Linked DNA regions of Homo sapiens: regions 2 and 3 are each linked to region 1. The links come from fine-mapping of genetic effects on gene expression. A gene starts in region 1. Each other region holds a variant in brackets. All regions are shown on one strand. Distances are from middle to middle.

Region 1 (8,187 bases):
GAGTCTTGCACTGTCACCTGGGCTGGAGTGCAGCAGCGTGATCTCGGCTCACTGCAACTTCCGCCTCCCAAGTTCAAGCGATTCTCTTGCCTCAGCCTCCAGAGTAGCTGAGATTTTACAGGCACCTGCCACCATGCCCGGCTAATTTTTTGTATTTTTAGTAGAGATGGGGTTTCACTATGTTGGCCAGGCTGGTCTCAAACTCCTGACCTCGTGATTCACCCGCCTCGACCTCCCAAAGTGCTGGGATTACAGGCATGAGCCACTATACCCGGCCTCCTTGTCCTTAAGTGAGCACTGGAAAATGTGATCTCCTTAAAGTCTGAGCAGCGTTCTCAGACAACTCTGTCCACAGAAGGTTGAAGCCCCACTCCCACTTGGAGTCTATTTACAGTTTCCTTTAGTCTTGACTGATAGCTATTTTGGCATGTCTCTCAAAAATTTAGCCAGCTTCTTCCATATTTGATTCAAGCTAGCTCCACATACCATGATTGTGTGTGTCTCCACTGCACTAAGTCACAACTTTCTCTTTTAATTCTTTCTTGTAGGTACCTTGAATCTATCCAGCTCTGTCATGGGAAGACCTGTGCCATGTTGTTCAACTGAAAAGATTCATGGGGTACCACTTTAATCTATTCGGAGGTTTTAGTCATGGGTGTGACTATCACACCCGTAATTTGATCCTTGCCAAGAGGTTGAGTTCTAATCAACCTTTGTTGCTCATCTCAGTTTTGTTTTTAATGAATAATAATGAGAATCACTTGCATCTTCTAAACGTGCATGTCTCCAAGTTTATAGCTTCCTATAATCACTTTCTTTCCTAACTGCAAGCTGGACAATTATTTTCTAAACTCATCATTTCCTGTAGTATTGAGACAGGAGAATAGGGTCTGGAGGCACGGAGATTAATTAAATCTTTTTTAATCATCTAAGGCTGATTCACACTGACTTCCTAAAACTAAATCAAAAGGAAAACCCCAACTTCCCATGCCTAAGTAACAAATGGACTCAAGGCTACTCCCTTTGCAACCCCCATCTTTTCTGAGTGTCAGATAAAAAATTGTAAGTACCTCTGACTGGTCCCCTCCTGCAGTCAATCAGGCTGGTCACAGGCCAAGTCTTCCTTTGCATAGGAGTATAACTTTGTAACTTCACTTCAGCCTCTGATTCATCACTTTCTGCAACCAATTAGTCGTTTGCATAGGGTGTAACTGTAACTTTGCTTCAGTCTCTGATTGTTCCCCTCCTGCAACCAATCAGACTGATTGCGGGCCACTACTTCATTTACATAGGGTGTACACCAAGTAACCAACAGGAAACCTCTAGAGTGTATTTAAACCCCAGAAAATTCTGTAACCAGGTCCTTGAGCCACTTTCTCCAGCCTGTTCCCACGCTACAGAGTGTGCTTTCATTTTCAATAAATCTCTGCTTTTGTTGCTTCATTCTTTCCTTGCTTTGTGCATTTTGTCCAATTCTTTGTTCACAGTGCCAAGAACCTGGACACCCTCCACCAGTAACAGTATTTTATATAGTCAATAGTTACTGATACATGCCACCAGCTTTCCATTTTCTGGCCTTTTCCTCTAGAACTACTAGACCTTCCCCATATTATTACAGTTTTGCCAAAGGTTTCACTCCTGTGAGTATGAATCACCATCTTTACGGCTTCTCCTATCACTTCCTTTGTTGTATACTCCCCAGCCACTGAGCCAATGCCATTTATTTAAAGGTTTTGTTCTAGTAACATTCCCATTCTGACACTAATTTCTGTGTTAGTCAAGATTGGTTCAGTGTTCCTCTAGTAATAAACACCACAATTTCAATGGCTGAAAACAATACAAGTTAAATTCATATTCATCCTATATATCCATTATAGGACAGTGAGGGAGCTCTGCTCATTGTAGTTACACAGGAACCCAGACTGACTGTGTAGCCACTATCTTGCATGTTGCTAGTTGCTGTAGTAGAAGGAAAGAGTTCTGAAGGGTCTTACAATGACAAGCCTGGAAGTGACTCATTTCACGTCTGCTCATAACTAATAGGCCAAAATTAGTTACATGATATTATTCAACTACAAGCCAGGAAGAGCAGTTCTCTCTTGTGCCCAGAATGGCAGACAAAGGAATTATTTGTTTAACACCATGAATACTTACCAAAATAGGTAAACAAAAAAGATAATTAAAATACTTGTGACATGTGCTGTAAATGGGGGAAAAGCTGGGCCCTGTAAGTAATTGAAGGACCTATTTAAAGTGGGTGGTCTGGGAGGTCTCTCTGAAGGTTTGCATTGAAACCTCAAAAGTCAGATGGAGTGAACAAGACTTAGATGAAGAACATTCCAGAGAAGAAACAAGAAGCATAAAGGCCTTAGGGTGGAATGAGCTTGGTTTAGCTTGAAACTGACAGAAGACAAGATATTTCAAAATCAAAGAAACAATGGGGGTGGCAAGGGACTGTCATGAGATAGGAGATACTATCACCTACCATCAGCAGTCAGTGCACAGAAGGCCCTGAAGGCCATATCAAGTAGTTAGGATTTTAACCTACCTGCAATAGGAAGCCTTTGAAAGGCCTTAGGACAACAAGTGCATGTTTAAGTTTTAAAAGAGTAACTCCCAAAGTGGGGAATTATCTAGAAAAGGATGAGTGAAAATAGGACACCAACAGGGAGGCTATCATAGCACATAGCATCATAGCAGTGTAGACAGAGATGACAGTGACAGGGATGGGGGATATGTGAGGGTGCAGGGAGTAGTAATAGTGAAGATGGCAAGAAATGAACAAATTTAAGACATATTTTGAAATATTTACTGATGGATTGAATAAGAGAAAAGTTGAGAATGGGAAGAGTGATTATGACTCCCATGTTTCTGGTTTTAGTGATAGGGTGGTTGGCAGCGCCATTTACAGAGATATGTGGGGGACAACTAGGTTTAACATCTACAGGAGACCAGATCCTATTCTGGACATGTTAAGTTTGAGAAATCCAAATGAGTAAGAAGTTAAATATAAGAATAGATCACATAGGAAAAGTCTAGTTAAAGATTTTTTTTTTAGATGATCTTGCTCTGTCACCCAGGCTGGAATGCAGTGGTGCCATCATAGCTTACTGTGGCCTCAAACTCCAGGGCTCAAGTAATCCTCCTGCCTCAGCTTCCCAAGTAGCTGGGAAGGCAGAAGTCCGCCACTGTACCCAACTAATTTTTTTAATCTTTGTGTTTTGTAGAGATGGTGTCTCATTTTGTTGCCCTGGCTGGTCTCCAACTCCTGGCTTCAAGCGATCTTCCAGCCTTGTCCTCCCAAGGTGCTAGGATTACAGGCATGAGCCACTGCACCCGGCCAAAGATATAAATCAAGAGCTCTCAGCATGATGTAACTCAGAAATCACACAGGTGGGAGTGTGTTGGAGAAGAGATGGAGATTCTAGGACTTGCCTAACAAATTCCCCCTTGAGATTTGTTTCCAGAAATCGTATCACTATTGGGTATGTGGATTTGTATTTCTAATTATCAGGGAGTAAAATTAACAAATGACAATCTAGGTAGATGTTAATATTTGGAGGGATTTCTTCTGATTTGAAACCCATTTGCTATTCTACTCTAAATGATAGCAAAAAAAAAAAAAATACATTTCCAAACACTATTGACATCCCCATTTTACACAAGTGGAAAACTGAAGCAGAAGGGGGTTCAGTAACTTGCCCAAGAAGACACAAAATTAGCAAGAAGTGGGACCTGTATCGCAAACTAAACAATTTGGCTCCAGAGTCTGTTTGGAACCCCTACACTGTACGGCAATGGTGGTAAAGTAGCTTAGTTAATGTGTTTAGTGGGTTACAAATAATAGATTATATATATGAGTTTTATATATAGTAATAGTTATATATGTATATATATTATACGTATATTTCTAGCTCCAATAAGAGCTTTTATTGGATCTATGTTCATGTGCGCATGCCTGGATCATTAGGGTTGTGAGGAACAATTCAAGTGGTAGCTATGCACTATGGCATTACAACTAAACCCTAGGAAGAACAGAACTGACTTCACCAGAACAGTCCTGAAGTTTCAAACCATTAAAAACAAACAGTAAATTTAAAAAACGCAAATTGTACTAGACAGTTTGGTTTGCTCCACTTTACGGCATCAAACTGAATGCCTGGACGTCATTTGCTGGTCAGGAAGATGAGTTAATTTTTTTTTTCCTGCCACACACTTAAGTTTTTTGCTCCAGGGAACATTATACATAGTGTTAACACACTCAATTTACATTGTAGTTTTAGTGTTGAAGATTTCCTGGAGGGCAGGAATAGCGTTATTCCATCGTTTTTAGCCCAGTCAGACTGGATGACGGAGAGAGGGAGGGGTGAAAAGGAGGGAGGGAAGGGGAAAAGGCAAGGAAGAAGGAATTCAAATTAAACACTCTTCCTATACATTTTTAGAAGCTGAGCAAGATGCCCTCCAAGATTATGTTTTTTAAAAAGTAAAGTTTTTCCCATTAATGGTGGTGCAGAAGCGTCCTAATCCCATCGAAAGTACTCTCACTCTTCCTCCATTCGCTGTCTTGACCTCCCCCGGGCCTCCTTCATTCTGCCTCCCAGTCCCGCCCACTTGTCGCCGGCTCCTACCCTCCACTCTAGCCTTCCCGGCAGCCTGTACATTGCGCATGCGCACTAGTGGCGTTCGCGCCGCGGACCCAGAGAGAGGCGTTCCGCGGAGGAGAAGAGGAAGAGGAAGTTGGGGGAGGGTCCTAGCGGGGAGTGAACCGGAAGTGTAAAGGTTCCTGCCTCTCCTCGGCCAGGCGGAACCTCTCTGCTGGGCCCGGTGGCCGCAAAAGAACTTTCTTTCTCCCGCCCGAACGGTCGCCGCGGCCAACTGCCTCGCCCGCCTGGCAGCCTAACCCTCCTTCTCTTCTTCTCCTCTCCGGCTTCGCGCGGCCCTGCCTCCCTCTCGCCCGGCGGCATCCGCTTGCTGCTGCCACCGCCTCCTCATCTTCTGCCCGGCCAACCGGCCTGCCCCGCTGCAGTGATGTGCGACAAGGAGTTCATGTGGGCCCTGAAAAACGGAGACTTGGATGAGGTGAAAGACTATGTGGCCAAGGTAAGCGGGGATGAGAAGAGTAGGCGAGAACACGGAGGTGGGCTGGAGATGAGGCTGAGGAAGCTGATGGGAGCTGGACTGCGGGGATGGGGGTGGGCGGGAGGAGAGACTTCCTGGGTGGAGGCGGCACCAAGGAGAGAGGGGCGTCTAGGGAGGAGCTAAACTGAAAGAAGGGTCCAGGTAACTTGGTAGCGTTCTGTGTCAGGTAACTGCTGCGTTAATACAGTTAGGCGCTACCTGACTTCCTGGCCTCTTGGGGGAGGGGAGGAGTGGTGTCTGGCTCATCCAGAGTTTCTTCTGCGCACTGATCATTTGAGTTTGGCCCTCTTCTACACCAAAGTTACTTAAACCTTTCTTTGAATGAGGTAATTCTCCATCTTGGACTTACCCATTACTAAATGAAGTAACCTAAGTAATTAGGATCAGAGGAACATGTTTTTTAACTCTCGGCCTGGTGTGAAGTTGAAGAATTCATTGACCGTGAAAAGAGTACCGAAAATAGAAATAGTTAAAATTCTGAAACTGAGTATCACTTCACTGTGGTGTCTTAACTTTGGGTGTGGCCTTTTTCCTTTCCCCCACCACAACAAATACATATTTGCTTCAAGTGGTAAGGTTGTCAACTGGCATCTGGGAATGTTTAAGGTATCTGAATAGTTTTTAAACAAGCATGTTAACTTCAGTTATTCCATTCTTCTCCCTGATTTCACCTGAAATGCTTACATGTGTAGTAAATAGCAATGCAGTTTAGTGGCAGTGTATTTGGGGGGTAAAATCATGATGAAGAAAGACAAACTCAAACCTCAGCCCCAAATATAAAACTGAATCGACATTGTGGCAGAGTGGGAAACTTAAAATTCCAAGCTAGCCTGTCTTTCCATCCTGAAACTGTGCCTTTGTAATTATGAGAGAACTTAACATGTGATTTTAATTTAGTGATAATCTAAAATGAATCTTCCAAAACAAGTATAATTTTATGACAACCACGGATGGCATCTTGCTCACCTTCTAAAAGTGTGAGAACCCAGTCTAGATTTTAACTCTTCAAAGAATAGGACCTGACCTGGGTTTTTGCTTCAGAGGCTGTGTTAGGAAGCAAGTAAGCGAAGCAGTTTCTTAAAACTTACAGGATTGTGCAAGGCAAACTGCTGAAGGTTTTTACTTTATTTAATGCCATTACAATTTAGACTTTTTGGATGCTGCTTACCTGCTTAGTTTTTTGCAGTGGAGTTTTAGGACAGGCTGTCTTCTCGTCACTGCCTTCTCAGCTGGTAGCCAACTGAAACTTGACTTATTGGCTATTTCAATATAAAGCTAAAAGGTAGAAATTATTTGGTACACTTACCAGTGGTGGGACACTGCAATACTCTGGAAGTAAGTGGGCTTTTGTTTTCCTGTCATGGTGGAACCTAGGTTGTTTGATATACTTGAAATACAAAAAGTTGATTAAGTACTAACTGAACTTACAGCTACCAAAATAACACAATGTATTTAGTGTTTTCCTGACACATTATTTTATGTCATCCTTGTGAATACTGGGAAGTAAGTCCTATTATTGGTCCCATTTTACAGATTACTGAGATGCAGGATACTTAAGAAAAGTTATGGAGATGGTAAATTGTGAAGCAAGAACTAAATTGCTGACTCCAAAACTGAAACTCTTTAACTGCTCCACGCACTATCTCTCAGTCTAAGATCTAATTGTGAAAGCGTATCATACCAAGATTTCTAGTAGGACATTCCCAGGGTCCACATTCAGGCAGGTAAATTGTGCCCAAAGAATTCTCAACTACACAAAAATATTTATATGAAAATATATGCCAATAAAGATGGATTAATTTATTTCCAATTAGTTTTATAATTAGGTTAGGTTATCATGTTCAATTTGATTATTTTCCCTATATTACTACCGTAGCCTGTTCTTCATTAATGTAAAAAATTTGCATAAGAGGGAGGGTAGACATTCAGAAAAAGCAAAAGGGAGTATTGAAAGTTGGACTATCCAAAAAGATATGACTGTAACTGTAATGTAATCTGATGTACAGAGCATTGAGCTTTATCCTTTCTTAGTTTTGAAGATTTCATAAAGTATCTTTCACTTTGTTAATGAGAAATAATAACAAGAACTGAAGTTTATACTGACTCAGCTCCCTTACGGTGCCCATTTATACTTTCAGGTCCTTATTACAGTTTCTTCTGCCCCACAGCTGTCTTCCCTGCTTATTTATTGACTCACATTTTTCATCTACCAATTTGTGAACACTCACTTTTTGAGTTTCTGTAATGTGCATCTATCTGAGTAGGTGTGTACAAAGAAAATACTAAAGAAACACTTAGACCTGTCTAGTCTTCATTCTCAGGGGTGAGAGTCTATTTTAAAAACTCTCCTCAACATTCCTGTGAAGATCTCTCATATTGTTAACCTAAGAATCTACCTGTAAGAGTAAGATAAGCATTTTAGTATTCCCCTCCTCCTCCTCTTTTTTTTGGAAACAGGGTTTTTTTGTTTTTGTTTTTCGGAGACAGGGTCTTTGCTTTGTCGCCCAGGCTAGAGTGCAGTGTCGTGATCATAGCTCACTGTAACTTCAGCCTCCTGAGCAGCTGGGACCATAGATGTACACCACGACACCCAGCAAATTTTATTTTTTGTAGAGACTGGATCTCACTTTGTTGTACAGGCTGGTCTCAAACTCCTAGCCTCAAGCGATCTTCTGGCCTCGGCCTCCCAAAGCACTGGGATTACAGGTGTGAAAGCACTGGTTCACAGGTGTGAACCCGTTTTTCCTTTATAAATTAGTATTTTTAAAAGTCAGTAATTACACTTTTCTACCTGCCTCTGACTTCTCTATTAAAGTTCGAAGTGTGAGTATCCCTAAATCATTGGTTTTAGGTGAGTTCTTGAACTTAGAAAAGTCAGTTCACAGTCCCCAAACCACTGAAAATTGTATTTTGAAATGGAAAAGACAGTATTGAGAGAAAAATTTAGATTATTTAGAGAAAAATTTAGATTATTACATTAAATGTTTCATGTATAACTTTAAGACAATATCTGAAGCAATTTTAAAGTCTTTCAACACTACATTTGGC
Region 2 (8,187 bases), 25 kb before region 1:
CAAATCTTTTCACATAGGTACTTTACTGATCTGCATTCTTCAGATGAAGAAACTGAGTTTTAGAGAAGTGAATTCACTCACCCAAGGCCACTTAGCTAAGAAGAGATGGCAGAACTGGGATTTGATTCCGGGTCTGCCTCTACAGTTTCTGCTGAACACCACTCTTTACAGAGTGTGCCTCTCACTAAGGAAGAGAGGATCTGGATGATGCTCTGTGTCTTCTACCTGGAAAGAATAAAAACTATCTGGGGTGGAAAGGACTCTTTTCCACTTTTGACAATTCCCTTAAACACCAAACCAAATATAAATACCCACTTTCTTAACATTTATTTTTGAAAATCCTAAAATCTCCTTAAAATCAATATTGAGATCCAAATCCATTAGTTTTCCTGCACAGTGGTGGTTTCATGCAATGAAATTTTACAGAGCTGAAGTCAAAAAACTTCAACCTCACCAGATACTACTGTGCATATGTTATTCTCTGAAACTCTACTCCCTCAACTCTGGGATAAAAATAATATTACCAACTCCCTGAAGCTGTTCTACATATTAAATAAGAATAATATATGTTGTATTAGTCCATTTTTATGCTGCTGATAAAGACATACCCAAGACTGGGTAATTTATAAAGAAAAAGAGGTTTAGTGGACTCACAGTTCCACGAGGGAGGTCTCACAATCATGGCGGCGGGTGGAAGGCATGTCTTACATGGTGGCAGGCAAGAGGGAAATGAGAGAGCATGTGCAGGAAACTCCTCTTTATAAAACCATCAGATCTAGTGAGACCTATTCACTATCAGGAGAACAGCACAAGAAAGACCCCCCCTCATGACTCAATTACCTCCCATGGGGTCCTTCCCACAACACATGGGAATTATGGGAGCCACAATTCAAGATGAGATTTGGGTGAGGACACAGCCAAACCATATCAGATGTGAAAAATATTTTACAAAATTCTCTACAAATATTGTTATTATTATTACCTTTCTATTTCTTTCTTTTTTTTTTTGAGACGGAGTCTTGCTCTGTCGCCCAGGCTGGAGTGCAGTGGCACGATCTCAGCTCACTGCAAGCTCCGCCTCCTGGGTTCACCCGCCATTCTCCTGCTTCAGCCTCCCGAGTAGCTGGGACTACAGGCGCCTGCCACCACGCCTGGCTAATTTTTTTTTATTTTTTTTTATTTTTAGTAGAGACGGGGTTTCATCGTGTTAGCCAGGATGGTCTCGATCTCCTGACCTTGTGATCCACCTGCCTCGGCCTCCCAAAGTGTACCTTTCTATTTATTTCTATAATTTTGTACTTTAGTCATAAAATGTAACAATCTAGAATATTTTCATATTTCTACCTTTATCATGGCTAGGCAATAACAAGGTTTCAATAGAGCAAAAGAATTTCCAAATGTTAATTTTCATAGTTTGCCAAACATACAATAAAAAAATGCTTAAACTATATTGCTCCTGCCATTTTATTTTGCTTGTTTTAACAAGTACAGAGAATATTACATTTAGCTAAGAATGATTTCAGATTAACTTCTCTTACATAAAGCAATCAACTTTTATAATATATATGTGGCAGGTAATAAGCACATAAATGTAATTGCTTTTTAAGAAATATTTGTTTTCAGTGTGGGTTTCAGAGTAAGGTGGAAGACTAAATTATATTATTTTAAATGGCCTCAGTCAGCTAAAACTCTCAGTATCAGTAATAGATTGGGAAATGGAAGCATAGTCATAGAAAAAGGAAAATGAATTTTTAAAAGCATTACACCTCAAACTCGATCATTCTTTCCTATAATGAACACAACAGTCTAGTATTGCAATAAAATTAACAATCACATTTCATAGTATTTCTATATATAGTTACACGTACTCTGTTATTATAACATTTTATTTTATTTTATTTTATTTTATTGTTTTTTGAGATGGAGTCTCACTCTGTCACCCAGGCTGGAGTGCAGTGCTGCAATCTTGGCTCACTGCAACCTCCACCTCCCAGGCTCAAGCAATTCTCCTGCTTCAGCCTCCTTGGTAGCTGGGACTACAGGTGTGCACCACCACATCTGGCTAATTTTTTGCATTTTTAGTAGAGACAGGGTTTTGCCATGTTGGCCAGGCTGGTCTCGAACTCCTGGCTTCAAGTGATTCACCTGCCTTGGCTTCCCAAAGTGCTGGAATTACAGGCGTGAGCCACCATGCCTGGCCAGTTATTATAACATTTAAAAATAGATTTTATTCCAAAGTTTTCTTTTTTATAACCAAGAAACAAAGTACATATGTGTTCATTCTGATGCTAACTTAAAACTGAATTTCTCTCATTCCGTACCTTTTTAACTTTATGTCTGAAGAAAAAAAAACCTGCGTGTTTAGGAAATGCTATTCCATTTACTCCTGCAAAGCCCTTCCCAGCTCTACATGTCTGACTTACAATTGAGGGGGCCTCCATTTCCATTTCCTCTGCCTTTACACTGGTACTAAGTTCTAATCTTGGAATTTCCTTACTCCAAAGTCAGCTGTTATTTGCTGTGTCCCCCTCCCGCCAGTCTCTATTCTGTCCTGCTGCATTTCAGCTGGTTACCTTATGCATCCAATTCTCTGCGGGCCAACGGTTCCCTTTATAGATCTTATAAAAGACAAGACAGACAGGATATTAGCAATCTTCATCTTTAAAAGAAAATTCTGGCTTTGAAATAGTCTTAGAATGGTCTCTGTCCAAAAGCAGAGACGCCAAGTGGCCCTTAGAACAGCCATCTGTGCATGTGTTCATTTGTTCACAGGTGGTGTAGCAAAATGGTAAAAGCATGGTCTCCAGAACAATGTTCCATTCCAGCTCTGCCACTGACTCGCTGTGTGACCTTGGATGACTGACTTAACCTCTCTGTGCCTCAGTTTCCACATCTATAAAATACAGAAAATAATTGTACCCATCTCATAGAGTTATTGTAAGAACGGACTGAGTTAATATGTGTAAAGTGTTTAAACAATTCCTTGAGCATAGCATATGTGCACTGTGTTTCCTATTATTACTATCATTTGTCTATTATTCATTCATAAAATATTTACTGATCTCTATTAATGCTGTTCGGCCAGGTGTTATTATACAACAGTGAGTGAAGCAAAAAATAATAAATAGCCCTTATGAAATCTACAGAGAGACAAATGTTAATCAAATAATCTTACAAATATATGATAATAAATGATATAAATGCATGAAAGATGACTACCCCCTAAAAATCTCGGGCCTATCTACCAGATTTCTTAATGCTCATAGTTCCTCTATTTTTCCCGGGTGGCAGAAAGAAGTGGCCTGGTTACCACAGTCAATGAACTAGTACTGACTTAGTTGTCTGATTCTTTTGTGCCCTATCTCCAAGAAAAGGCCTGTTTCCCACTCTTCCCCA[T/A]CCTGTTCTTGAACCGCTCTGTTGAACAATATACCCACATCTCATGCTTCACCACCACAACACTGCCCCTTTGAAACTCTGCCTTTGCCCTGATTTCTTTAAATCAGCAGTCCCCTTGGACTTGGGTGGCAGTGAGTCTTCTCGTATGGCCTATTATTCCATTTGCATCTCCGAGCTTGCCCTCATATTCCCGTTCCCTTCTAGTATACGTACTTTAGAATACCTGGCTCTGGCTTCAAATGCTGCTTCTGCTATTAGTACTTACCAGGTGTGTGAATTTTACCAAGTTACTCAACCTATCATTTCATCTGTAAAATGGGTATAAAAATATCTATACCACAGAACTGAGAGGCTTAAATAAGACAAACCCACTTACACAACTTATAGTGTCTAACACTCAATGAATAAGTTCACTCACACAACCATATTCATCCCCAGGCAGTGAGGTCATGCATCTAACAAGTATTTATCCCCAAGCACAAAGGATTTTAACAGGTTAAAAAAATACATAAATCATTTCTTCATTTGTGAAAACTGCAATTCTATTAGGAGAGGCAGCCAAAAGTTGAAAGAATGTAAATTGTAATGAGAACCATATAGGAAACAATAAAAATTCCTGAGACAGAAAAACAAGAGAGACTTGCTAGAGTTCAAGTGGCCAAGAAAGGGGGAGAAAAAGAAGCAGCCAAAGGAAGACGTTTGTGCAAAGGTCCTGAGGTAGAAAGATTAGCATATTTGAGCACCTGAAACACCACTGTGGCTAGAACCTGAGGAATCAGGGATGAAGAGACACAGATGGGGTTGAAGAGATGACCCTTCTAGGCCTCCATGGTACATGGTTTGGAGTTTACTTGCAGTTTAATTCCTCTCCCTTCTATACCACCTCCAGGCCCCAGTTTTGTGTTTTAAATACCAGACAGCTATTGCTATACAAAAGCCTAGCTGAGCTCCATCCTAGGAGTTGATCTTTTTAATACTAACCCAGTTCTTTATGGAATAATGAGGTTCAAGGGAGAGAAAGATTATGTGGTATACACAATGTTCTTCTGTTTTCTCCCTCCTTTTCCAACAGAGCCCTCAGACTCACTTCCATCTCTGTGCTTTCCCTGGAAATGTCCTTCAGTCCCATGGCTTTATGTGGCATTTGTAACCCAACGACTCCCAGTTTATATCTCCAGCTGTGACCTTTCTGCACTCTGGGTGCATATCCAATGGCCTACTTTACCTGACTACTTGGGTATCTAAAAGGCATCTCAGATTTAACACAACTGGAAGAGAACCCTTCACTTTTGCCCTCCAAACCTGTACTTCTCCCAGTCTTTCCTCTTCCTATCACCATCCAACCTTTTGTTCAAATCAAAATTGTAGATATAATCTTTGATTCCTCCCTTTCTCCTGCCCTCTTGCATCCAATGTATCAAGTCTTGCCAGTCACACATCTAAAATAGATCATTTATCTGTCTATTTCTCTAACTCAATGGCCACTGCCCAGGTCAGCCTGGGCTACTGAAATAGTCTTCTAAATGATCAATATATTTTCCCAAAAAAGCAGTCGCTTGTTGAATATTACCTCCAACAATCTACTCAAATACCAGAAAAAGTGATCTGTTGAGAACATAAACATAAATAGCATAACGTTACTCCTGTGCTTAAAACCTCCAGTGACCTCCCATCGTACATGGAGTACAACTCAAGACCCTTAACCTGGACCCAAGAACCTACACCACCTGGCCCCTTAGCTTCCCATTCCTGCATCACTGCTATTCCTCTTCTCCTGTGTCACCTAAGTTCCAACCATACTGTCTTCAAATACACCCTGAGGGTTTTTGCCGTACATCTTCATGCATCTTGTTCCCTCTGCCAAGCACATCCCGTCTCCAGATCTTTGCAGGTCTGACTTTTTCTTTATTTTATTTATTTTTAATTTACAATGCAGCTGTGCTTGGAAAGTCTGGCTTTTTCTTATCGTTTAGGTCTTGCCTCAAATAATTCCCCTTCAGAGAAGCCTTCCCTACCTTCTCATTTTTTTTTCATCTTTTTTAAATTTTTTTGAGACAGAGTCTCACTCTGTCACCCAGGCTGGAGTGCACTGGTGAGATCTCAGCTCACTGCAACCTCCACCTCCCAGGTTCAAGTGATTCTCCTGCCTCAGCCTCCCAAGTAGCTGGGATTATAGGTGCCCATCACCACACCTAGATAATTTTTGTATTTTTAGTAGAGACAGCGTTTCACCATGTTGACCAGGCTGGTCTCAAACCCCTGATCTCAAGTGATCCACTCTCCTCAGCCTCTCAAAGTGTCTGGATTACAGGTGTGAGCCACTGCACCTGGCCCCTGGCTTCTCATTTTAGAGAAGCCACTCATTCCTCAAGTCATTCTCTGCAATAGCTCTGCATGGTAGAACTTCCTGTGATGATGGAAATGTTCTCAAGTGCTATTCCATGCAGTAGCCACCAGCCAGGCACATGTGGCTACTGAGTTCTTAAAACCAAGTAACTGTGGCTGAGAAACTGAATTTCTAATTTTATTTCATTTTAATTTAAATAGCCCTGTGTATGGGTAGGGCCTACCCCATTAGAGAGAATAGCTCTATAGCATCACCATGTTTTATTCTCCTCAAAGCTCTAATAACTACCTGAAGTTATCATGTTCATTTCTTTCAAAAGTTCCATGAGGTCAGGGACCTGGTCTATCTAGAAAAACTGCCACACACACAAAAAAGTACTACATACATTATGTATTTCTGCATAACAAATTACTATAAATGTAGCAGCTTAAAACACCACACAATTCTTATCTCACAGTTTCTGTGAGGTCGGGAGCCCTGGGCATGGCTTAGCTGGGCATGTGCTCTGCTTCAGTGTCTCTTACAGATCAGCAATCAAGGTATTGGCCAGGGCTGGGATCTCATCTGAAAGCTCAACTGGGAAAGGATCTGCTTCCAAGCTCACATGGTTGTTGGCTGAGGTCAGTTCTTCAAGGGCTATTGGAAGGAGATCCTCAGCACCCAGCTGGCTGTTGGCTGAAAGCTGCCACCAGTCCTTTGCCACCCCAACATAGCAGCTCATTTTGTGGCAGCTTGCTTTATCAATGTGTGCAAGCCAAGAAGGAAACAGCAAGAGAGGAGTTACAATCTTATGTAAACTATCATAGAAGTAATATCTCATCACCTTTGCTGCATTCTACTGGTTAGAAACAAGTCACTAGGCCAGCACACACTCAAGGAGAGAGGATGATGCAACAACATAAACACCAGAAGGCAAAGATCACTGGCGTCTGCCTACCCCAGGCAGCTATTACATATTTGCTGAGTGGATGAATGAGTGAAAGGATGAAGGCAAATATCACTGGCGTCTGCCTACCCCAGGCAGCTATTACATATTTGCTGAGTGGATGAATGAGTGAAAGGATGAAGACCCTACTCTACTCTGGCTGAGTTATGCCAGTGTAGCCCCTTTTTCCTCACTGTGAAAGATAAAGTCTTGTGTTAGAAATTATCAAAGAAGAAATAGAGATTCTTTCCCTAATGAAATCTGAAAAAAATATTAAAGCTATGGAAAAGGAAGTTTCTTAGCAAAGTAGACAGATTCTTACTTGATAACTGTTAAGAGCATGAACAAGCCTGGGCAACATAGCAAGACTTCATCTCTAAAAATAAAAAAAATAAAATATAGAAAAAAATAGCCAGGCATGATGGCTCATACCTGTAGTCCTATCTAGCTACTCAGGAGGCTGAGGTGGGAGGATCACTTGAGCCTAGGAGTTCAAGGCTACAGTGAGCTAGGATCACGCCACTGCAATCCAGTGTAGGCAACAGAGAGAGAGACCCCACCTCAAAAAAAAAAAAAAAGTATGGGCCCTGAAGTCAAAATGCTCAGATTCAAAGCCTAAGTCTGCATTTTTACCATTTGTGTACTTGAACTCCTTTGTGTCTCAGTTTGCTTATAGGATTATTGTCAGGATTTAATGAGTTAATAGGTGAACATTTTATAGAACAGCACCTGGCACAGAGTACATACTTAAGAAATGTTAGCTATTATTATTGTTATCACTACTATAATAACCGAATTTTTTTTTGGAAAACAAATTTTCCACTTCTAAGGCTGTTAATGTAATTCTTACAAGCTAATGATTGTATCACTCTGGGTTCTTAGTTGCAGGCAAGAAAAAATCAACTCCAGCTGAGTTAAGCAGAAAATGGAATCTATTAAAAACATAGTGGGTGACTCCCAGAATCACTGAAAGAACTGGAAAATGGACAGGGAGTTGTGCAGCTGATAACAACACCCAAAATCACAAGGTAGAACCCTCTGTCCCCTTGGTCTGCCAACGCCCCTAGTCCCAGATGCTGCACATGGCCAGCTACCCTAAGGAACTCAGTCCTCCTCCAGCTGCTGCTCCTACAGAATGTGATTCTTCCAGCGCGCACATCACTGGTAGGCTGTAAGAACACTGCTGGTTTCTCAGCCTGCTCCATCACATTGATGAAGGCTAGGTCTCAGAGATATGCCTGAAGAGCTGGTATTTGGCATTTTCTTCTTCTATGGTTACAGGCAAGTCTGCCTCCTTCCAAGACTCATTGGAAGGGTAATTTCCAAAACATAAGATGAGCATTCCCACGCTGGACAGCCAAAATAATTTTAAAAGCAAATGTCCACTAGAATAGCCATTAATGATTTCTCCTTGTTGAACATGATTTTTTAATCCACATATTAAAAATTCAATAAGTTCCTGCAGATAAGTTCTCTCAAGGCAAGGATTTATATCTCTCATTATATTCCTTTCTAGGTC
Region 3 (8,187 bases), 56 kb after region 1:
TTTGTGTCAGTCTCCTGACATTGTTTTACTGTAACTTCAGTAACGCTCCTGGTTGACGGGGAGCAGGGTGTAGCCAGCACATCCCAGATCGTCAGGATCTTCAGGGGGCTTGAAGAAAATGGAGTCGTGGTTAAACCTCTGATCCTTTCATTGCTCATCTAAGTTGCTCCACATTTCTTGGAGATCTGCATTTCCCAAACTCAACTACGAGCACTTTTTTAGAGTGTAATTTTCAGGATGAGTGATCACTTTGAACCTTAAAACTGAACAAAATTAAATACAAAATCAGTTTGATTGTGTTGTAATCTTGTTAGCACCAGAAGACTATTGCAGTTTACTTTTAGTGATAGAAAAAAAATATATATGTGCAGATACTAAGTTACAGCAAAAGCTGTATTTTAGAACTTTCACATTGTTGACTGAAGTATAAATGGGGACCATGTACGGCTTTAGGTGGAAGTGATTACAGAAATTTTTTTAAGTTCTCATTTTAAGAATTGGAATCTAGGACCGGCGCAGTGGCTCACGCCTGTAATCCCAGCACTTTGGGAGGCTGAGGCAAGGAAGATCACTTGAGCCCAGGAGTTCGAGACCAACCTGGGCAACAGAGGGAGACTGAGTCTCTACAAAAAATTAAAAAACAATTAGCTGGGTATGGTGGCAAGTGCCTGTAGACCCAGCTACTTGGGAGGCTGAGGTGGGAGGATTGCTTGAGACTGAGAGGTTTGAGGCTACAGTGAGTGAGCTGTGTTTGTGCCACTGCACTCCAGTCTAGGCGACAAAGCGAGACCCACTCTGAAAAAAAGAATTGGGGTCTGTAAAGAAAGTTTAAATCTGGTTAAATACATTTTAAAGGGAATAGAGTCCCCTTATATAATGATTGAAGAACAGACCAGCATATGTGGATGGAAGGCACACACCTGGTGGAAAGAAGGAGCTTAGAGGGAAATTAGTTTGCCATTAGAGAATAGCTGTCATAGGACTTTTCATGCAGCACAGTATACCAGACCACCATAAGATTTTTTTTTTTCTCTTTCTGTAGCATCAGTGATTCTCAAAATGTGGTCTCTACACCAACAGCATTGCCATAACCTGGAAGCTTGATAAAAATGCAAGCTTTTGGACGCTAGCCAAGACCTACTGAATCAAACTCGGGCTGGACCCAACAGTCTATGTTGTAACAAGCCCTCTAGGTGATTCTGATGCGTGCTGAAGTTTGAGGACCATTGAATAAGACCATAAGAGCAAGAAACAGTCAAATAGCCTATAAATAGATGCCATCAGGCATGACTTCCTAAAGAGAAAGTAAATGGAAGCCTTTAACATGTGAAATGTAGCAAAACTGGCCAAGTTTTGAAGCTCCAGATGTCCAGGAAAATCTTTAAAAATGAGTTTCAAAGGTATATTCTGGCCAAAAGAAGTCAGGGTGAAATGTAACAATGGTTCCAAAGGTGTAATACTGGTGAAAATGACCCTTAGTTATTCTTAGGAGGTTTTTCCGCCTTATGTCCCCAAAGCTGGATTCCTGAGACTCAAGCCTTACCCTTACCTTACCTTTCCTTGAATTCCAAAGTAAAGTGGAAGGTGGAAGCCAGGCACAGTGGCTCACGCCTGTAATCCCAGCACTATGGGAGGCCAAGGTGGGCAGATCACTTCAGGTCAGGAGTTTGAGACCAGCCTGGCCAACATGGGAAAACCCCATCTCTACCAATAATACAAAAATTAGTTGGGTGTGATGGCGCACGCAGCTCCTTGGGAGGGTGAGGCACAAGAATCGCTTGAACCCAGGAGGCAGAGGTTGCAGTGAGCCGAGATCGCACCACTGCACTCCAGCCTGGGCAACAGAATGAAACTGTCTCAGAAAAAAAAAAAAGTGGAGGGCTGGGAGAGACATGTAAAGAATTCTTGGGACCTATGACATGAACTGCAGTCTCATGCTTTTTATATGCAGGTCATTGTGGGGTGCAGGACTGGCAGGCAGAGCCACTCTGGGAGGAAGTCAAAGGCTGCTTTCTCAGCCCAATGCCCCGTTTGCTGTCACAGTGTGCTGTGAAGATGGATTCCCCACTGCAGTGGGTGTGCTGCTGGCTTGGAAACAGCAGCCTTGGGGTGGCCAGGTTCCCTGGAGTGGAGTGTCCCAATTTCTCTGCACAGTGGAGTGGCTTTTGCCCTCCGTTTTTCTTTATGGGTGGCCACTCATCCTATCCAACTAACTAGGTCCTGTGTCAGGTCAACGATCTTACCCAGATACCAGCCAGATCATCACACATCAGCCATGGGATATTTTTCTCCAAGGCTTTTACTTCCTTAAAATATGATTGCTGATTGAGAAGAGAGAATTTAACAACAGCTTTAATAGCACCTGGCCCTCAATAGACATTTCACTGTGTTTGTTCTGAATGATGACGTAAAACCATTATACAGTAAAATGTGAAAACAGCTTTGATTCAGTAAATCCTGCCCTAGAAAAGACTATTAGAAGAGCCATGAGGCTACCTGTGTCCATGTACCCAAATATTGACCATGGAGCCTCATAAGTACTACTGATATTGATTGCAAACTGAAATCAATGATGTGAAGACAAATATCACAGAGTCACAACAATTCACTGAGGAAATGCTGAGCGTGGGTCAAATGCAGGTCACTGTGAGACATCATGACACATACTCAGGCACAGCTATACATGACAAAGCAAAACAAAGCATTGTCTGGCCACTCCAGCAACTTCTATGATTCAGCAGCTGAAGCAGCAAGGATGGTCTTATTTCCACTGTTTTGATAGAACAGTGGATCACGTGTCTGGCAACACTCGTAGCAACAGCATCTTGTCACACAAAGGAAAATAATACATAGACAATTCCTAGCCACCAGATGTTGGTTTTGAGAATACTACTAGATAGACTTTTTTTAAATAAGCTATATTTTTCTTCTTTTTTTTTTTTTTTTTTTTTTGAGACAGAGTCTTGCTTTGTTACCCAGGCTGGAGTGCAGTGGTGCAATCTTGGCTCACTGCAACCTCCGCCTCCCGGGTTCATGCGATTCTCCCTGCCTCAGCCTCCTGAGTAGCTGGGATTACAGGCACCCACCATCACACCTGGCTAATTTTTGTATTTTTAGTAGAGACGGGGTTTTGCCATGTTGGCCAGGCTGGTCTCGAACTCCTGACCTCAGGTGATCCGCCCGCCTCGGCCTCCAAAAGTGCTGGGATTACAGGCGTGAGCCACCACGCCCATTTTTCTAAGGTTTTACTTACAAATCTGGAAGTGTCTTGTATACCTATATCCTCTTCCTAGTATCTAATAATGTTCTGTATGTTTATACACATCCCCCGTGGCAAGCTACCAAATCTAATTACGTCACTGCTACTCTGTGATTTGCTAGTCAAATTTCATTAGGCTTGAAAGTCTTCAGATCAAAACTAATTTATGGTAATTTTTCAGTTAATAGTTCATGAGATTAGACCACAACACTATGAACCTAGAAACTCTGTAATATAACATTCTTATTTAAAATTATCACTTAAGGGAGTTAGGGTTTTATGACATTTTGATGTTAGTTTCACCATTTTAACTGAACATTTACTATTATCTGGGGACCATTCTAAATATTTTATGTGAACTGACTCATTTGAT[C/G]TTCCTAATAATCCTATGAGGTGGGAATATTGCCATCCCTATTTTTAGATGATCAAACTAAAATGAGAGGTTAAGTGACTTGCTTATGGTCACACAACTAGTTAGTGGTAAAGCCAGGCAGTCTGGATATAAAGTTTGTGCTTTCTACACTTATATTGCCTCTCCAACTCTCACTGAATCAACTAATTACATTTTATTCTATGAATACAGCTTTTTCTAAGACTCTTTAAAAGATGCTTGGAAAATATTATATGGACTTATGATTTTAAACAATTACAAATCTTACGCATTGATCTGGATGAAATCAGGTTCTACAAAGACAACATTTAATTTTCAAGTTTGAGAAGTAACAATACTTTAGTGTAATAAACAATTTTTTTGACAGTCTAGAAAATTGTGATATAATCAAGAATTGACAAACCATGGTCCCCAGGCCGAATCTGGCCCATTGCCTGTTTTTGTAAATAAAGTTTTATTGGAACGCAGCCATGCTCATTCACTTACATATTACCTATGACTGCTTCCAACACTTCAACAGCAAAGGTGAGCAGCTGCAACAGATGTAGTTCATGAAGCCCACAATATTTATTATCTGGCCCTTCACAGAAAAAGTTTGCCAACCCCAAGATATAGATGTTTAGAAGGCATAGGTTGAGAAATACTCCCAAGGATTGGCCAGCACCTCGTTACAGAGGGGTTAGCAAAATCATGAAAGAATGTAATGAGTTAGTTGAAGCAAATGAAAGGCCAAACCCATTAATAACACACCACTCTTTATGCCTGAAGTAGACTGTTACAATAATGGTCCCCAGTGAATCATGCCTATGGGTATCTGTGTCCTTACATAATCCCTTTGTATATTCACTCTTGATCTTGGCTGTGTGACTTGCTTGGCCCACCAAACATGAAGCCGGGAGAAGCTTGACAAGTGCTTCCTCATTAGAGCTTGCCTTCCTGGATCTTAGCATGGAACGAAGTCTGGAGTCACACTGCAGAAGAGGCCACATGAAGAACTGAGGTGTCCCAGCCAACAGCCCCAGCTAACCACCGGACATGTAAGTGGGGCCGTCCTGAACCATCTAGCCTCAGTCAATCCCCAGATAACTGCAGCAGCATGAGTGACCAGAAGGAGAACCAGCAGCTGAGCTCAGTCCAAACTGCAGACCATGAACAAATACAAAGAGGTGACTTTAAGCCACCAGATTTAGGCACAGTTTTTTTATGCAACACTTGACACAGTGCCCTAGCTGATGGATGTCTGATGAGAAATTAGGAGCATCACCTACAGACAGGAAAATATGTCTAAATATTAAAAATGACCCAAAAAATGATACCCATGAGATAACAAGCAAATACCATTAAGGACCCAGGATTTCCTTTTCTTTAAACTCTTGAAGGAAAGAAAAATAGATTAAATAACAAAAACCTTTGCCTTCCATCTAGGAATGGTTAGGTCCTGTAAATAACCAACTCTCGTGTTTCTCTCTGTGGAATCCTTTTTATCCCTATCTACCCAGACAGAATAGAGTCTCTCACATCCTTGTAGATTTTTCTTTCTGCCTGCTGGATGATTCAAAGGCTGGTAGGGATTTGCTGGTGATATGACTTGGCTGTGTCCCCACCCAAATCTCATCTTGAATTGTAGCTCCCATAATTCCCATGTGTTATGGGAGGGACCCAGTGGGAGATAATTGAATCATGGGGGCGGTTTCCATATTGTTCTCATGGTAGTGAATAAGTCTCATGAGATCTGATGATTTTATAAGGGGTTTCCCTTTTCACTTGACTCTCATTCTCTCTTGCCTGCCACCATGTAAGACGTGCCTTTCACCTTTCACCATGATGTAAGGCTTTCTCAGCCACATGGAACTGTGATTCCATTAAATCTCTTAATCTTTATAAATTACCCAGTCTCAGGTATGTCTTTATCAGCAGTATGAAAATGGACTAATATAGCTGGTATGAGCCAAGTAACTGACAAGCCAGTGACTTTAAGGCAAATTATTATAATAATGAGAAAAGGTTTTGGCTTAAATAGCAGTTGTGGGGTGCAAAGAGGGAGCAGGACATCGTGGAACAAAGCCAAGCCACGGTGCTGACATCCTCGCCAAGAGTCCCAGGCTAACCACAGGACAAGCCTGTTGGCCTTCCTGCTGGAGGAGGAGAAGGCAAGTGAGCCTTGTCCATGGCCAGCAAGGTGTGAGTATGCAGGTGGCGTCCCGAACAGTACAGCAGCACGGGGTCCCTAACACTTCATGCTTTCACTTCATATCAGCACTTCCTCTCTCAACCCAGACCCATGCAGTCATTTCAAAGCAGCTCCCTTGAGGTCCACACTAGCCCATGGTCACCCCAGAAGCTAACAATTGCCCCCAGGTACAGGACTGAGAAGGAAGAGAGAAGTTTAAGGGCAGGGAAAGGAGACGCATGATTTGTGGAACATAAATAATAAAGAGAACCAAAATTTCTACTATATACAGCTACAAAACAAACAGCTACAAAAAAATACAGCTACAAAACGAACTTGGGCCATTTCAGCTTGTAATGCATTTAATGGAGGTAGATGGTGAGGATAGTCAGCCTCTACATTGTAAGCTCATTCATTCAACAAATATTCAAGGCTGGGTGCAGTGGCTCACACCTGCAATCTCAGCACTTTGGGAGGCCAAGGCAGGTGGATCATTTGAGCCCGGGAGTTCAAGACCACCCTGGGCAACATGGTGAAGCCCAGTCTCTACAAAATAAAAGATAAAAAAAATTAGCCGGGCATGGTGGTGTGCACCTTTGGTCTCAGCTACATGGGAGGCCAAGCGGGGAGGATCGCTTGAGCCTGAGAGGCAGAGGTTGCAGTGAGCCAAGACTGCACCACGGCACTCCAGCCTGGGTAACAGACTGAGATTCTGTCTCGAAAAAAAAAAAGAGAGAGAGAAAGAGAAATATCCACGGAGTGTCTAAATGTGTGCCAGGCCCCGTGTGGGCACTATAGATGTTGCAATAAATACAGCATTTCTGACATGACTCCTGCCACGTAGGGCTTATTTCCTAGTAGGAGAGGGGAAAAAATATCTATTTGTAAATAAAATAATTACAAGTCATGATGTATGCTGGAAGGAAACAGACAAACTAGATGGGATGGCAGAGAGGAGCCACCTGCTCTTGGAGTGTAAGTGCCTACGTCTTACTCAGGTGTGTGCCTCTCACAGTGTTTACATTTGAATGCAATGTTGTAGCCTCAGAGAGCTAAGCTCCACGTGGTTAGATCTTTTCCCTATTTCAATTTATGGGGTTGCAACATTGACGCAGGCTGAGTGACAGAAGGGAAGGTGGCAGACAGCAGCAGCACTGGGACCAGAGGAAAGGTTAAGCAAGCCTTCCGGGAATGGCCTGCCCTTGCTAGTGCATCTCCTGCAGGGTGGCCTGAGAAGTGAGGTCCCCAGCCATCTCTCTGTGCTGTGGTGCACTCACTCATCAGGGGCCAGCAGCGGGTCCCCACCCTGATGGGTTCTACTCCAGAGCTCTCTAACTGGACTGCCCTCATGGGACCACATAGGAGACAGAAGCCCAGCTCTCCCAGGTCTCTGCAGCGACCTACTAATACTTCAGATCCAGGAAGAGAGCTGCACCTGCGTTTGGCAATCTTATGGAACAGGAACGTGGTCCCCAGGCTTTATCACACCAAGCAGCTGTGTTTTCCAATATCTCCTCGTCTCCCTAAGCACAGGGGTAATAGGGATTGGTTTTCATTTTTTTCTCACTCCTTCCTTTTCTTTTTGAATGTACCATTGCATAAATCCTGTAGTTCATCTTGTTCTATAGCTATGAGTTTAAATCTCGTTTCATGTCATTGTTAGCAATTCTTTCCATAATGGTAATAATCAATAAAAACCCTAGTTAAAACCTGGACAGCTGCCACCCCTTGACCACAGCCAGGGGAAAAAGTATTGCTGTGGTTTTTGATGGTGCTGAGGAGAACAAGGAATTCCTCTCTGAGGATAACCAAACCAAATGCAGAATGTTTTGGTTGTATGACCCAGGTAGGTTACCCTTTAAAAGTTTAAACTCCTTTATTTCAGAAAGTTGAAAAGGCATAACTTCAAAAGGAAGTGAAGTTTCACTCGTTAAAAATTAGGAAGTTTTTTTAAAAATCACATACCTGTGGCCCAGAACATTCTCATTTGATGAAATTTATTTCCATTTTCCTGAAATAGTCTTGATTTTTATTACGAGAGTCAAATACATTGCTTAATATGCCTGCTAAGTTACAAAGGATTAAACAAAGAGAAAGTATCTTTGTTTATTATTATTTTTCTCTTGCCACAGTTCTTTATTTGGGTTAAGGATTGCCTCGTGTTTCCTGACACATTTTTAGGGAAGGATTTTGTTTAGAGTTTTGCCACGTAGTGAATGAACTTGACAACCTTTTTGCCAAAAATCACATCTGTATTTTGCTCCCACTCTTTCCCTCTGAAGTTGTCTGCTTGTGAACGAGAAAGCACATGTATGCTTTCATAAGGCTGTGGGCTCATTATGTCAAAGGAGATGGTGTGGAAGCAGA

Evidence for each region. PIP is the estimated chance that this variant, and not a neighbour inherited with it, causes the effect.
Region 2: its variant is fine-mapped to the expression of MTPN in whole blood (TOPMed, PIP 0.92).
Region 3: its variant is fine-mapped to the expression of MTPN in sun-exposed skin (GTEx, PIP 0.94).

Annotation. Positions count from the first base shown.
Region 1 is chr7:135,973,942-135,982,128 of GRCh38, reverse strand. It overlaps MTPN (myotrophin), which reads left to right and starts at 4,770. Exons shown (of 4, transcript NM_145808.4): 1 at 4,770-5,100. The coding sequence starts at 5,029. It also overlaps a transcript of LOC105375523 not described here.
Region 2 is chr7:135,998,938-136,007,124 of GRCh38, reverse strand. It overlaps a transcript of LOC105375523 not described here. Among named protein-coding and RNA genes, the nearest start is that of MTPN, 26 kb to the right of the region's middle. The variant T/A (reference allele first, on the strand shown) is at 3,397.
Region 3 is chr7:135,918,378-135,926,564 of GRCh38, reverse strand. No RefSeq gene overlaps it. Among named protein-coding and RNA genes, the nearest start is that of MTPN, 55 kb to the left of the region's middle. The variant C/G (reference allele first, on the strand shown) is at 3,633.